2 separate regions of the Homo sapiens genome follow, and region 2 is linked to region 1. Evidence: fine-mapped expression QTL. A gene starts in region 1. The other region holds a variant in brackets. All regions are shown on one strand. Distances are from middle to middle. Region 1 holds the start of VCPIP1 (valosin containing protein interacting protein 1). Region 2 overlaps ARFGEF1 (ARF guanine nucleotide exchange factor 1).

The links. PIP is the estimated chance that this variant, and not a neighbour inherited with it, causes the effect.
Region 2: its variant is fine-mapped to the expression of VCPIP1 in whole blood (INTERVAL, PIP above 0.99).

The regions. Positions count from the first base shown.
Region 1 is chr8:66,664,160-66,672,502 of GRCh38, forward strand. It overlaps VCPIP1 (valosin containing protein interacting protein 1), which reads right to left and starts at 3,072. Exons shown (of 3, transcript NM_025054.5): 1 at 90-3,072. The coding sequence starts at 2,799. C8orf44-SGK3 (C8orf44-SGK3 readthrough) reads left to right here and starts at 3,437. Exons shown (of 19, transcript NM_001204173.2): 1 at 3,437-3,542. C8orf44 (chromosome 8 putative open reading frame 44) reads left to right here and starts at 3,437. Exons shown (of 2, transcript NR_161217.1): 1 at 3,437-3,542. RefSeq lists enhancers at 1,960-2,019, 2,270-2,789, 3,160-3,669.
Region 2 is chr8:67,232,091-67,240,433 of GRCh38, forward strand. It overlaps ARFGEF1 (ARF guanine nucleotide exchange factor 1), which reads right to left. Exons shown (of 39, transcript NM_006421.5): 20 at 8,072-8,200; 21 at 6,645-6,803; 22 at 6,253-6,403; 23 at 765-855. Among named protein-coding and RNA genes, the nearest start is that of ARFGEF1, 110 kb to the right of the region's middle. The variant ATTCATT/A (reference allele first, on the strand shown) is at 4,813.

The sequences.
Region 1 (8,343 bases):
ACAGATTTCTTTTCCCCCAAAGATAACAGGAAAACTCAGTGTATTATATTTACAATTAAGATATACCATCAGAATTAAATTCATCTTACCCATTAATGTTGCTAAAAGACACAAGGAGTACATTTCTTTTTCAGCTTGCTCCTGAAGTTCCTTAGATGACAGTTTACCAGTAACAGCAATATCTTCTTGTTTCACAGTGTGGGCTGAGTGTGCTGCAGCAGACTGACCACCTTCAGCTTTACTTTTTAGAATTTCTATTGTAATTCTGTCGCCATGCTGTAAAGGAACTGGTTCCTTTTCCATTCCTGCCTGTGGTGGCATTAACTCTTTAGGAGGAAACCCGTATCGAATACACTGTAAATATGGAGGAATGTTGAATTCTCTGGCTATACTTTCCTGAAGTTCAAAAAAGGTTGTTGAAGACTTAAGGGTAACCATGGACTGTCGTCCATCATTAGTTGTGATTCGGATCTTCTTCTCCTTAGAAGTTGTCGGTGAATAGGGAGCCTTGGTAGGTGTAGCAGGTGCAGAGGATGGACCATCACGAATGGTACTGGGAGAAACAGTCCTGGGTTGCCCTTTTTGTTCTTGTTTTAACTTCTCTGTTTTCCGTTTCTGCATTACAGAAGCCTGTTCCGTAATATTCTGTTGAATAGTTCTTTCAGTTTTACTCATGTTTAACTCCTCCTTGTGCAAAGTTTTTGTTTTCTGTCCAGTAAGAATAATTTTAGTTGGGAGCTGAGACTCTGATTCTTGTCCTTGAACATCTCCAACTCTTTGGGCGTGAGCACCATCTATATTTACAGGAGTATAATCATCGGGATTCTTTTTGGCAGTCTGATGCAATATAGTGTGGACAACTTTCTGAACTAGGATTTCACTCCCAAATTCACCTGGAAAGTGCTTGGTAACAAGTTTCATTGCAACATCGTAAACATTACTATTCAAAGATGAATCACTTTCATACTGGAACCAATATACTGTTTCTCTGACCACTCTTCCACCCCATTCTAAAGTAATAGGGAAAGCTTCTGGTAGATTGTCATACTCCTTACCATCCCAAAAGTGTTTGAATCCACAACCACATTTGCCACCAGTGGACCTAGAATTAGTTCTGTCTCCATCCAAATACACAATAGACCCATCTCCTCTGACCTTTCGCACAGATGTGCCATGGCACCAATTACAAGCTGTTAGGTTACTCATTCCATAGTCTGGTACCAGAACATCTTTCACTGAATCATATGAGCAAACCAAATTGTTCAAGGGAAAGCTGTAATTTTTGTCAGTCCTCAGCTGTCCATGAGTACTTTTTGCCAGGTTATACAATTTCCCTCCAGGAGCCAACCACTCTGGAGGAACATGAAGTTCAGAAAGGGCACCACAGAGCAAACATTTGTGAAGGCGATTATCCATTACTGCTTTTTTAGCAGCTGCTGTGACTTCCTCAGGCTGAACTCCTATCACTCCAGTCCTTCTGTAGAAATACTGATGGACATCAGCAACCAAACTAGGATGGATACCATGTTTGTCCATAAAGACTTCTTCCATAGCAGCAACAAGCCTAAGTAAGTATTTATCTTGCAAACTTCTGTCACCTCCAATAACACAACCACCATCCTCTTCAAGTTTTATGTACTTTTTAATAAGGTCCTGAGGCACACCCCATGCTTTAGGAAGCAAATTCATAGGCAGTTTGGGCAAAGCAGCCCCTTTTATGCCTACCAAGGGGATATAATGGTTTCTACCGGAGCTGCTCCATGCAATACAGATTGGTTTGTTCAAATGACCATCTTTCCCAGTGCACTTCTCTGCAGGGATGAGCCCAGGTAGAAAGGTGGCTGAATAATCACCAGAGCTTCTCATGCCACTGAGGGAATCTAACAGAATAATAGGACGATGTAGCACATTGGCAAGACCAAATATGTGGATATTCCTCAGGCCCAAGGGAACACCCTCAGGTGGTACAAACAGAGGGTCACACTCATTGATAATGTCCTCCCACTCAGCAGCATCAATGAAGTCATGGAACAGAGCTTGATATCGGGCCAGGTGCTGCTGAAAGTGCTGTTTAAGATTCTCTCTTAAGGCATGCCAGAAGAGCTCTCGGCCTACTAGAGCCCGAGACACAGCATGCACCAAGCAGTGTCCATCCCCGTCCACATGCACTGGAATGAGACATTCCTGGCTTTTATTGGCCCGCTTAATGTCCTCCAGAGTGTCATGCAAATACAGGAGGCTTCCGGAGCGGTCCTTGCCATAGCCCACAGTGTTAACATGCTCTGGTTCTATGAGGAAGGCGCGGTCACCCAGTAAGGCGCAATCGAACAGTTCGCCCTGGTTCATGTCCCGGAGAAGCTTGGCCCGGCCTGTCTGTTTGTCCATTCCATAGCGAGCTAATATGGGCGACAACAATTTGCAGTGATAGTTGGAAAGGCCCATCACCTTTACCAGTTCCGTGTTCTTCTTGGGTGCCCCCGTAACCCCGAGCAGCGCGTTCCGCAGCAGGTTGTGTAGCACTACGTCCGGGTCGGTCACCTCCTCAACCCCCAGCAGCTGTTGCTGCTCGTGCCGCTGGCCGCACTCGGTACACTCGATGCTGACAGAACCGGAGGCCGGGAAAAATAGACGCGCCTGACACTTCGGATCCGGGCAGCTCCCGGAAAGGATTCTCCGGTCTCTCCGCTTCAAAAGCCCCCCCGAAGCAGCCGCCGACGCCAAGGACGACGGAGTCTGTGGAGCCTCAGGGGGAGGAGGTGGCGGCGGCAACGGAGGCGGCGGCGGCGGCGGCTGAGACATAGCTCCTGGCTCTCGTGTCTCGCTCCGCGTCCCAGGCGACCCTCAAAAGCTCATAGCCCAGACCCCCACCAACCCGACTCGGTCCAGTCCAGGCCCAGGGCGAAGCACTTTCCTTTCCCTACCAGCTCTTCCTCCTCCTAAGCGAAGGCGGAAGCGCCGGACGTTGTTTCTCTTCTTACTTCTCCACTGCCGTAGCCGTTGCCCCGAACGTAACGGCCACCACCCCACCCCGCACTCACACTCACTCACTCTCGCTCTCTCTCCCTCAGACACAGACATACACGCCCTCATTGAGTGTGCGCAGGCGCAGCTTCCGCTCTGCCCTCTGGGAATTAGAGTCTTCCAGCCTCTGTGCTGGCCATCAAGCCCTAGGATCTTGAGTCCAGAAGGAACTACAAGTACCGTGAGGCCAAGCGGTTCAGCGCTAGAGGAGAGGAGGAAGAGGACGGCAACAGGAAAAGGGGCGAAAGAAAGATGGTGACTCGCGTTGCCTGCCGGTAGTTGTAGTTTTACTGGGCTCTCCTTCGTCGTCTTCCCCACTCTGCAGCCCAAGGCAAAGAGTCTGAGAGACCACATTTCCTAGGATGCCGTGCGGTGCGTCTAGCTGCACTTCCTCCTTAGGCGGAGGGGAGGATTCAGGGAAGCTTGGTTAAAAACAGTTATGGCAGTGGGAGTCGAAGCGAGGGTCTGAAGTTCACGACTACTAGAAGGGGAGGGGAGTGGAAAGGCTCTCAGTGAAAAAGGTACAGTAAATAAATGTCCAGGGATATTGGGGGCTGGGAAGTTGAATAAATGGTCTAATCTAGGCTGGAGGCCATAAGGGGGAAAACAGTTGATTCTCGGAAGCTCTGCCTTCTCCCCCTCTCTAGTGCGAATCACTGAGGCGCCATTTGATTTCTCGTTTCCTGCATGTTTTGGCAGTTTACAGTGCAAATAACGGTACCTTGGATGTCTGTAGAGTTTTGTGTGCATATACAAATTCTCTTAACTAGGTTTAATTTCATTTGCTCTTTACCACCCTACTCCCCAGAGAATAATAAGAGCCATCATGTGTTAAGTTCTTAATATGTGTCTGGACAGCATTTGCATAACACGATATCATTTGATCTTAAAAAATAACCTTCTTAGGAAACAGGCCCAGAAAGGAAATGACTTGCTAAAGTTCACGCAGCTGATAAGTGAGTGGATAGACATTCAGATCTCAACCTGTCTTCTTTTTACAGATCAGGACATAGGCAGGAAAGGTTAGGCCTGTATTACATAGAATAGTAACTAGCATTTGCTTACTATTGCCTTATAGTTTACATATTTAATAATATGTTCACATGTATCATCTCATCCTCACACCAGTCCTGTAATACCTTTACCAGGTGGTGTTGACTTCATTTACAATCAGGGAAACTGAGACTAAAAGGAATTAAGTGACTTGCCCAAGGTCAAGTCACCAGTTATGCTGGATCCCAATCTCAAACCTTGAGAGTGATTTTTACGCTGCTGCTTACCAAAAAATCCCGGCCGGGCGCGGTGGCTCACGCCTGTAGTCCCAGCACTTTGGGACGCTGAGGCGGATGCATCACGAAGTCAGGAGATCGAGACCATCCTGGCTAACATGGTGAAACCCCGTCTCTACTAAAAATACAAAAAAATTAGCCGGGCGTAGTGGCGGGCGCCTGTAGTCCCAGCTACTTGGGAGGCCGAGGCAGGAGAATGGCGTGAACCCGGGAGGCGGAGCTTGCAGTGAGCCGAGATCACGCCACTGCACTCCAGCCTGGGCGACAGAGCAAGACTCCGTCTCAAAAAAAAAAAAAAAACCCAAAATGTTAGGCTCAAATCTTTTGCTAGGCCTTAGAGTCTCCTCTTAGTGATGAAGGGATGTTTAATGTTAAGGAGGCAACAGCTTTATTCTTTTTTCACTTGGGTAGGAAACTGCCTCTTCATACAGAACAATATTCATATGTTAATTGAAAGCTAGTATTATTTTTGTACATTCATCCTCTTTCACTTATTACGGAAATTCTTGCTTTCTGGAAGTTTAGTATCACCTTAGGTAAGTGGACTACCTCAAAATTTCTGAAACATTTGGCACCAACTAGAAACATTAGTGAAGTCCATGAGATCATTTGAGTCTTCTGTAGCTGCCCAGGAAACCGCCTGATTAGGTTGTGTGTGTGTGTGTGTGTGTGTGTGTGTGTGTGTGTGTATGTATGTATGTAGAACTTGATGCTTTGAAATGAACCATCTGCAAAATAGAGGCCCATAAAGGGTATTAGTTTTGATGTGCACCTAATTGCTACAATTTTCTTGAAAATAAATATTTGAAAGAGAAATCCTCCATAATGGACCTTAATTACAAGAGAAGTGATTTTTCCTATCTTGGGATATTTTTCTTTCTTTTTTTTTTTTTTTTTTTGAGACAGAGTTTCACTCTTGTTGCCCAGGCTGGAGTGCAATGGCGTCATCTTGGCTCACCCCAACCTCCGCCTCCCAGGTTCAAACCATTCTCTTGCCTCAGCCTGCCGAGTAGCTGGGATTACAGGCATGAGCCACCACGCCCAGCTAATTTTGTATTTTTAGTAGAGACGGGGTTTCTCCATGTTGGTCAGGCAGGTCTTGAACTCCTGACCTCAGGTGATCCGCCCGCCTCGGCCTCCCAAAGTGCTGGGATTACAGGCGCAAGCTACCGTGCCCGGCCGGAGGGGGTATTTTTCAATAAAGTTTTTCTCAGAGAATTCATGCAAGAAAAGTTGTTTATTCTAACAAGTTTGGTGGTAACTACACAGATTGGTTTTGGCACTGATTTTTTATTAACAGTTGAATGCTTTATAAGTAGAGAAATTGGGTATCTCCTTTAAGTGGAGATTATTTTATGCTGTGACGAAAATGTTACACCTGCAGTGAAAGTTTTTCTCATACAGAATCCAAATAATTGAATTAAAGCTTTGTAGCACATGAGATGACAACAGTCTGCAATTCTAACACTGTCAGGTACTTTTATATCTTAACAACACCAGGCCAAATTTTTCTTATTGATGATACATATACATAGTGAAGTAGATTTTTAAAATTGTATTTGAATATGTCATTCTGAACCATACTATGACAAAATAATCACTTCCCACCCCACTGAAGAAATGAGAAGCCTTTTTCTGGCTTGTCTAGATCATTTAATAAGTTTGTAGATGCACTCAAAGTTCAGAAAGAAAGCTAACATAAAGGGGCAATGAAATTAACCATGTCAAGTTTAATATGTGAATTAATTCTTTATTACTAGCACTTAGAAGGCATGGATACCTACAAAGAAAAAAAATTGTTAGGTCAAAAATAGGACATACTGTTTCTTATAAGACCGGAGGAGTGTAGAAAGCCTCTCCTGCTTATGCAAGATCTGCAGGCTTCCTTCCTCTTTTCCTCCCAAATTCCATGATCTTGCCTAATGAAGATTAACTTAACTACCTAATTAACTTTCACAGGATTTTTGTGGGGTAGATAATAGTTCTTGTTTTTAGTAGTCCAGATGAAAAGAATAAGCTGGGCCTCTGACATTAGCTGTGCTGATACACGTCTCTTCTACCACCATCACCCCAGCATCACTAATACCTAAATTGCCAAAATTCAGTTAAAATAGAAATTCATCTTTTTCATAGTTTCTAGTATGGCACTTGTAAACTCCCTATATTGCTTTTAACAAACTTGGTAAATGTAAATGCAGAAGTCATCCACTTTTACCAACAGAACAACCATCATTGTTCTTGATCTTTTATATTTTATATATATAAGGAAGGGAATCATAACTTTGGGGATTGCTGTAAGTTGGCCACATACCTGCCTATATAAACTATACATCTTTACCAAGAATTGACTGTGTTCTTCCAGACCCGTGCCACGTATAGTCAGACTTCCAGTCACAAGCTTCGACTGAAGCTCAAAGTGGATTTGGGAGGGACTAATTATTGAAGTAGGTATTATAAGAATTTAAAGGGATGCAAAATTTCATCTCTGTCTCAAAGAAGCTTAGAGTTTAATAGAAGAGGGAGGCTAAACTAAATTGTTCATAAATATAAGTAGAATAAAGCATGTAATCAAAATAATACAGGAAATATCACAAATGCTATGAAAATTTAATTGAGGGCAATTTATTATAGGGCAGTGTTTTGAGTATATCATCTTAATCTTTAAAACACTCCTGTGATACAGTATTGTCCTTATACGGATAAGATTTAACTCTAAAAGGTTAACATCGTTTTTATTACCACCAGCTATGAAATAGAGCTGGGCTTCAAATCAAGGTTTTCCTTGTTCAGCACTCACTCTTTCCACTACATCACAGCTGCTTACTGATTTGAGAGAGAATTAGGCAAGAAGTCAATACAAACTGGTGACCAGTAGCCAAACTTGGCTTGATGTAGTTTTGTTGGGTCAGCAGGAGTTTAACTTTATTTTTTTTGAGATGGAGTCTCGCTCTGTCTCCCAGGCTGGAGTGCAGTGGCGCGATCTCGGCTCACTGCAAGCTCCGCCTCCCGTGTTCGCGCCATTCTCCTGCCTCCGCCTCCCGAGTAGCTGGGACTACAGGTGCCTGCCACCACGCCCGGCTAATTTTTTTGTGTGTATTTTTAGTAGAGATGGGGTTTCACCGTGTTAGCCAGGATGGTCTTGATCTCCTGACCTCGTGATCTGCCTGCCTCGGCCTCCCTAAGTGCTGGGATTACAGGCTTGAGCCACCGTCCCCGGCCTTTTTTTTTTTCTAATGTGAATGTGTTTGAGCAGTGGCCAGTATTCCACTCTTTAAGACCTTACACCAGGGCCCCTTGAGACAAATGACCGAGTACAGAGCTGCAAGTCATTCCTTCGCACAGTAGTCCTCAAGCTTTAATGTGCATCACAGTCTGGAAGGCTTGCTAAAACACAGATTGCTGGGCTCCATCTTAGAATGAGTGTGTCTGAGGTGGAGCCTGAGAATTACATTTCTAGCAAGTTCTCTGGTTGCAGATGCTGCCAGTCCTTGCGAGGATCACACTTTGAGAATCACTGCTTACCAAACTTGTAGGGCACTTTTGGGGAAGGCTTGTTGTGTTTCTGTTGTTTATAATACAAAAGGAATTGCTTGTCAGAATGTGCAGAAATAGGTTAAAAAGAAAATTAAAATTATCTATCAGAGATTATAATTGCTAACATTTTTAATGGACCATTCAAGCTCCTTTTTTCTATGTGTGTATAGTATGTACTTTTTTAAGAAACCAAAATTATATAATAATAATAATAGCTATTAACACCTTTTTAGCATCTATTGTGCACCAGGGTCTTTACATGTAGTATTTACTTAATCCTTTTAATATCCTTATGAAGCAGGTACCATTACTATCATTCTTATTTTTCAGATGAAGAACTTGAGGCACAGAAAGGTTAAGTAACTTGTTCAGTGTCTCATTGCTAGTAGGTAGCATAATCAGGATTAAAACCAAAGCAAGGCCAGGCTAACACCTGTAATCTCAGCTCTTTGGGAGGCCAGGACAGGTAGATCACTTGAGGCCAGGAGTTCGAGACCAG
Region 2 (8,343 bases), 570 kb after region 1:
GTTTTATCTGAAGCAAAGTAAAATAATGGATCAGCATGAGTTTCCAGACTATCAAGGAAAGATTTGTACAAATTATGTTTTTGAAAGTTTCCATCACAAGTAGGGGGTGGGAGGAAGAAAAAGAAAAAACATTATTGTAAAATGTTTCACTTTTGGGGGCATTTATCTAGAAAAAGCTAAACTTCAAGTAACAATAGGAGACATTGTTCTATGTGCTGGACATTTTAAAATTGGAAATATTCTGTAGTAAATAAAGCATACCATGGGTTTTCTTTTAGAAAACAAACTAAAAATGGGGAATATGTGGTGATGTGTATAATATATAAATTCTGAAGTCCTTTCCAAAAAAGTTTATAATGGGAATTGCCAATAAAACCTTTCATTTCATCCATAATGCAGTCTATATTGTGGACCCAGAAAAATAAACTACACAACATTTTCAAATAGGGATAATAAGGGGAATAAGTTTTCTACGAGAAAATAAAACATTTGTATTCTTTTCCATCGAGGTTACCATTTCCTTAATGCCCATTAGTATCTATTGTAACTTAAATTTTCATACTGTTTATCATCTTCTTATATTCTATGATCCAAAAAGCAAAATTATAGGTACTTCATCATCTAAATCACAGCATATCACAATATAATTTTATATTACTTTAGAAAAATGATTTTGGCAATAATATTTTTCTTTTTACCAACACCTAAATGCTAAAGAACTGAAATAGTAATCATCTGAAAAGGGAATAAAATGAATACCTTACCTATCTACAGCAACAACAACACTCTGAGAACTGGTTTCTCCAATGGATTCCTGAATACTTGCTATCTGTTTCCAGTCCACATTTCCTCCAACTACCACACATAAAAAAAAGTCATTTCAGTTTGAAAATAATTCAGTAGAAGAATACACTTAACAAGTTCTAAAACATACTTCTGAAATCAACTGCTTTCCTAATAACAGAATGCTTCAGGTGAACAATTCTTTTGATATCAGTGACATGAACAAGGCCAAATGTGCAAATGAACTTTACTAAGTAGTATACAACACATGGTTATAAGTCACAAACTATGTTTGTAAAGATCACACAAAGTAGGGGCACTGTGAATTTATATCACAAAATTATAGATATTAGATATAATTTCCCTTAATGTTTAAAGAAATGCAGCACTAATCTCAGTTCCAATGATACCTTCTGAGGATGATCCCAACTCCAAAAATTTAGACTTCCCTTGTCATTTAATCTCTAGTCCCCTATTTACAAAGGTCAGTTGAAAATTCTACCTGTATTTTCTAACACCCTTTTATTGAAAAGAATCATTCATCTTTTCCCTTGAAACTGGTTCCACATGTTGGAGAGGAGAATAACAATATTCCCAGTCTTCAAATTCTTAACTTCAGAATCACCTTTGATATCCTTCCCCTCTTCCACTATCAATATTCAACTAGTCACTAAATTTTTCTTCTGATCTGTTTTTCATATCACCTGTTCATTTCCATTCCTACCTAGTTCTGGCCCTCATAATCTCAGTCCTAGATTACTGAAACCATTTCATGAGTGATTTCCCTGCCATTAATTATTTCCCTCTTCAATCTCTCTTTCATCCCCCTGCCAGATTATTTCCTAAATCGTCTCCTTCATTCTGCTTACTGTTACTTACAAGATAAAATATAAACTCTTTACCCTAGCATTTAAAGCACTTCCCTTCAACAGTCTAGCCAAAATGTGCCATCCCTCAACTATCTAAAACTTACCTACCAAGACTCAATTTGGGTTCTCAATGAAAAGTTCCTCTCCATTGTTCTCATCTGCCTTTGAACTAAGCATTTACTTAGCTAAGTACTACTCAAATCAGAATTACGTTCATACAGTTGCATATAAATTATTTCAGGTGTGTTAATGTTGCCTTCACAACCAGATAAAGTTTCCTAAGGTTAGGAATCAAGTAATATTCATTTTTGTACTTTCCTACCTTACTCAAAATTAAGTCCAAAGCAGGTGCTCTACAAACACTTGACCTGAGTGACCAAACACTCAATAAATGCCCTTCTGAATGCAAACATAACAGATGATATCATTTAAACCTGCTGAACTCAAATTCTATTCTAGGAACTGAATGATGTGAAAAAGATGTAACCCCTGTCCTCACAGAGTTAATAATTTACACCAGGAGAGACAGATATGTTTATAATGAACTTCAATGCAATGTAATGACTACTTCATGGCTGAAATGAACTAACTACATAGAATAAAAGTTTGCTAAATAGAACTAATTTCAATAGGGACAAGAACAGGGTGTTAGCTCATAGAAAGGCTTCACATATGATGAAATATTAATTCAACCTGGACCTAGAAGGGTAACTATGTAGAAAAGGAAGGAGAAAGAAAAGCAATTGAGACAGAGGGGCAGCTATATAAAGTAATGGAAACATACAACTGTACATCATGTTTTCACATACTTGGTAGTATAGCCATAATGAAGGATTGGCAGACACCAGGAAGAAGGGAAAAGAACAGCAGTAGGAGATAAAGCTGAAAAGACAGACTAGAAAAAAGAATGTGAAGAGCCTTGACCCTTAGGTTTAATGTACTACTTTCGAAAACAGGGATCCGTTAGGTCTTTTAGAAGATTGATATGATCTAATCTATTTTCCAAAAGACAACACTGATAATATCTGGAGAACATACTGAAATAGGAAAAAATATTGAAATCAGAGAGATAAACTAAAAGTCTACTGCTATAATACAAGTGAACAAGAATGAAAGCCTGAAGTAAGTGACACAGTATTGGGGTGGTAGGGAAATAGTGTCAAGGCAAACTTGACACGCACAGCATGTTACAGGAATTTTACAAAGAAAAACCTATGAGAAAAAAACAATGCCAATCATAAGATAACTTCCTTTGTGTATCAACAGGATATCCTTTCCACAGAGGAAATATATATATGTTCTGTGGGGAAAAAATATGTGTATGTGTGTATATATATATATATGTGTGTGTGTGTGTGTATATATATACACACACACACACGTGTCAAAATATGTCCTTTATATTTAAATATAATTTAAAATCATTAATAATAAAATATTTAAAGGAATCAAAGAATATAAAAAATGTCTTGGAATCCAAAGAACCCATTTCACAAATATGTGAAATCCCTTAATGAGAGTTCCAGTTTTGTCAAACAAATTTACTCAAAAGCACACAACACAAGAGAATAGGGGTGTTAGCTCAAGAAAGGCTTCACGTATGATGAAATACTAATTCAACCTAGACCTAGAAGGATGGTTATGTAGAAAAGAAAGCAGAAAGAAAAGCAATCACAATAGAGAGGGCATATTTAGGTTAAATAAGATTTTTTAAACTATGTGTCATGAATACTCTCTGAACATTTATGTGACAAAGCCATTGAATTTTTAAATGTTAAGGTATCTCTTGAAAGACCAGCATGCAGTCCAGGTGCCATGGCTCGTGCCTCTAGTCCTAGCATTTTGGGAGGCCGAGGTGAGAGGATCACCTGAAGCCCGGAGTTTGAAACCAGCCCGGGCAACATACTGAAATAGGAAAAAAACATAGTGAAAGCCTGGGACAGGCTTTTACTTTAGTAACTTTAATTTAAAAAAAAGTTGAGCCCAAGAGTTCAAGACTGCAGTGACCTATGACCATGCCACTGCACTCCAGCCTCAACAACAGAGTGAGACCTTGTCTTTAAAAAAATAGAAAAAAAAGAATGCATATAATTCAAATCTAATAATTATCTACTATGTATTCTTAATAACTGAAAGTTTCGTATTTCCAAAAAGTGAAAGTACAGACTTTTTTTCTATCAGTCAGAAAGTATGATAAATATATACTCAACCCGGTCAACTTGGTTACATGGAATACTCACGGCAGAGATACCATTAATAAAAGAGGATATGGGCGGGCGCAGTAGCTCACACCTGTAATCCCAGCACTTTGGGACGCCAAGGCGGGCAGATCACATGAGGTCAGGAGTTCAAGATCAACCTGGCCAACATGGTGAAACCCTGTCTCTACTAAAACAAACAAACAAACAAACAAACAACAAAAAAAATTAGCTAGGTGTGGTGGCACACCCCTGTAATCCCAGCTACTCAAAAGGCTGAGGCAGGGGAATCACTTGAACCCAGGAAGCAGAGGTTGCAGTGAGTTGAGATCGCACCACCGCACTCCAGCCTGGGTGACAGAGTGAGACTGTGACTCAAAAAAAAAAAAAAAAAAAAAAGATATTAGTTAAAAAAAAAAAAAAAAATATATATATATATATATATATATATATATATATATATATATATATGTATCCACTGTATATGCAGACTAAACTGGCTTGACTGTACCACATCTTCTTCTAGCTTAAATTCTGATGACAACATTCTGCTCCAGAAAGCATCTGCTGTCTGACCTTGGTAGGCACAGGGGGACAAGGGTAGCCATTTGCCACATGGGTTGGCTGGTTATCCAACGGGACGGCCCAACGGGAGGGCTCTGCCCAACAGGGGCCAAGTCCACAGACTAGCTCCTTCTAGGATGTGGATTCAAAATGGAGCATGGAGTCAGGACTGAGCAGAGAATGGTGCAGACCAAAAAGAGAAGTACATAACAGAGAAAACCTAAATAAGGCATAAAATAAGTGTTACTGGTCTTGAGAATGGTCTGGAAGCCTGAACTGTTTTTCATTTCTAGGCCTCAATGTGTGTATCTTTCTGTAAATTCCCTTTTTCTGAAGGGAGAAGACAGTTCATCTCATATCCTTGCAACCTAAGTAGCACAGTACATGAATTAATTTTA[ATTCATT/A]TTCAAGTATACCAGTAAATATTATCAGCAAGTATCATTATTTCTCGTTTGACTAAAACTTCTAGAAGATATCCCACTGGTGTTTTATTTTTAGTGTAACCTAATTCTGTAGTCCTACTTGCCAAAACTCAGGCCCAGCAATTAACACCTGTCATTATTTTGGCATTCCCACACTCTCTAGGCCTTTTCAAAGTTACTGAGCCAATCAGTGCACATTCACTTCCCTTGCCTGAAAATAGTTTTCATCTGCATCTCATGTTACCCCATGGAGTAATTACAGTTCTAATGTATAAAGTTGGGCTTCTAATCATTGTGCAGGTGCTCAGGTAGTTCTAAATCTTACTGCTAGATCACCAAGGTATCAAGTCTACACCTGCACCTCCCAGACCTTACAATACTATAGCATCTATGCTATCATGGAGGGACAGACTGCATTGCTAGCTGCTTCAGTTGATTACCACTGGGAATTAGTTTTCCCCAGTCCAACTTGAAGCCATATCATGGTCCTGGTTTTTAATTCTTTTCCTATGGATCCTTTATAAAGTTTGAAATTCTTTTGGGGTTTCTAAGAATTTTCACTGCTAGCAGCAACAGAGGAATCACTAAAAGATAGAAGATTCCTGCTCTAAGTAATGCGTCCAGATTGGTTGGAGGTGGGGGGTTGGGGAGGGATGGACAGAGAATATCTAGAAACTTCGAATATACCAGCCATTATGCTAAGTCCAGTCATATATATTCTTATTTAATCCTAACAATCCTATGATTAGATATTACTTTGTTTGCAAAAGCAGAAATTGAATCTCGGCGAACTAAAGTAACTTACACATAATAAGGAAAAAATACAGAAGAATTCAAACCCAGAAATACTTAAGGTCAAAGTCTAATAAGCTCTGTTTCTTCCCTGGTGGAACTCCTTCCATTTATGACTAAAAAATGTATTGCTTTTCATTCTTCTCTACCCATTTTTGCTAATGTTTTCTTTTGTTCTACTGGTTTAAATGTGGAAGTTCCTGGTCATATTGAGCGCATGGGGAGCCATGGGGAGAGGTTTCATACTGGCAGAAAGGCTGGTTAGGCCTGCTCATTGCTTTAACAATTAAATGTGAATGCTTTCTCCAGTTGCCCCAACTATTACCTGATACCAGCTTTCACACATTCAAGTTACCTGCTTATTTTTAAAAGCAAGTAATTTAAAAACTCTACACACTGTATCCTTCTCCAACAACCAGAGAGAAGCCTGAAACTAAGGGTCATTTAATGTTGCAAACCAGACCAGGCAAAAAAGATTTAGTTCCTTAGTCATCTTGCTTTTTCTCATAAGGTTAGACAAAAGGCATTTTATCTTCTCCTTCTAATTATATTTCATTACTACAATAAAGTGACTTATAATGAGGAAGTTAAAAACAATTTTTGATACTTTGTAAAAATTCTCACCTAGCCCTAAACCCACAAATTCATCAGGAGCCTGATCTTTTGTTCCAGTAAGAGATCCTTCTCTGCCTCGCACTGTTCCAGAAATGTATCGAGGTTTCACTCCAGTTCCTATAAGCTGTGCCAGCTCCAACTGACTGATGCACTTCAGAATCTTAATTACAAAAAGGAAAAAAATGTTAAATTCCATGTTAAAAATATCTTCAAAAAGATTTAAATATATGCAGCCAGGACTTAAACACAGACTACACTATAGATTATTTTAAAAAGCTAAACGTACTTATTCGAAATGTACTAATTTTCTCCCCTAACATTTAGGCATGTCAATGATGGACTATTTAGCATTAGCTCATTTTATAAACCAAATTGCAAAGTTGAAAATAAAGTGCTTATACCTCATGCCATGAATTTCCTAAATAATTTCCATCTGTATGAGCCACTGTGATAAGTGTTTTTATTGTGTCAATGTTCTTCTGTTTCATTTCAGTAATACCGGAACTCACTGTGAGTAAGGTAAATCTTGCTAGTGCCTGGACATATGCATCTCTCTCCAGCTATAAAAAAGAGAAAAGTATGTTTACACAGTTCTAAATAGAGCAGACTGATTAATTCCCCACCAACAAACTCTGTTTACTTGTTCAGTAAGATTTTGTTTTTTTTTTTTTTAATTTATTTATTAATTTTTGAGACAGAGTCTCACCCTGTCGCCCAGGCTGGGGTTCAATGGCGCAATCTCGGCTCACTGCGACCTCCGCCTCCCAGGTTCACATGATTCTTCTGCCTCAGCCTCCCGAGTAGCTGGGATTACAGGCGCCCACTACCATGCCAAGCTAATTTTTTGTATCTTTAGTAGAGACGGGGTTTCACCATGTTGGCCAGGCTGGTCTCGAACTCCTGATCTCGTGATCTGCCCGCCTCGACCTCCCAAAGTGCTGGGATTACAGGCTTGAGCCACCATGCCTGGCCCTCCTTTCCCTTTCTTTTGCCTATTAAACCTCCACTCCTAAACTCGTAAGTTCAGTAACTTGTAAGTTTAGTAAGTTTTACTTGTCATGAATTACATATAATTCCACAAGTTTTTTATTTTCATTCATTTTAAGATGATGCATGAAGCAGAAACGACATACATTTCTAAAATCCAAAGGCAGTGGTGGTGTCAAATTGAGATTTTTAGTGATAACCAATGAATTCACACAGTAAAAAAAAAAAATTCATTAAGCACTTTTGTTTTGATTACTAGATTAGCAAAAACATGATTTATACATTTGCTCATTTTCTCCACAGCTACGCTATACTTTTTGCAAGCCATTAGCATTTATAATTAAATGTTGAATGAATTTTTCTTTTTTTAAAAGTTCCTCAAAGCATATAAATTACTAGAAAGGACTTCTTTCATGAAAATTATGTATTCAATATTTACATGTCTTAAAGATAACCTGTTCTTAGGCTTAAGTTATGAAATCATATAAAATATATACAACCTTGTATATAAACTATGATTCAACAAGATATTTTATTCGTTTAAACAAGATGTTCAAATTAACATAGGAATTCAAAGTCTTGAAAACTTTCTGTATAGTCTTCAATAGAGAAAAAAAACTGTAACCAAAGTTATAATGATAAACTTAGACAGATCAGTATAGAACTACCCCTTCTATAACAGCTTCTCAGAAGCTTAAACATTAAGATTCATTTAAATTCCATCATAAACTTGAAATTAGTTTTTAATGTCACACATAAACAATTATTGTAATTTAAACTATTGTAATGGCATAGGTAATTAATGTTCCAAACTGGCTACAAAGACAAAATTCTCTGTTACCTGAATGCTGAAAATGCATGCAATTCTGATTGCACATCTTATACCTTCCAGGCAAAGAGAGGCTACTTCAGTATCATCACAATCTTGTAGACCCACACTGAATGCAGCCAGAAAAGGCGTCCAAGCCAACTACAAAAATTAAAAATTGTATTTTAATTAAAGATTATGATAACACATTAAAATTTCTCAAATCTTTTAGACAATACAAGTTCTGAAAAAAAGAAATGAAATTCTTGGCAGTTATCTAGAAAGCTTTCTTAAACAAAGGGGGA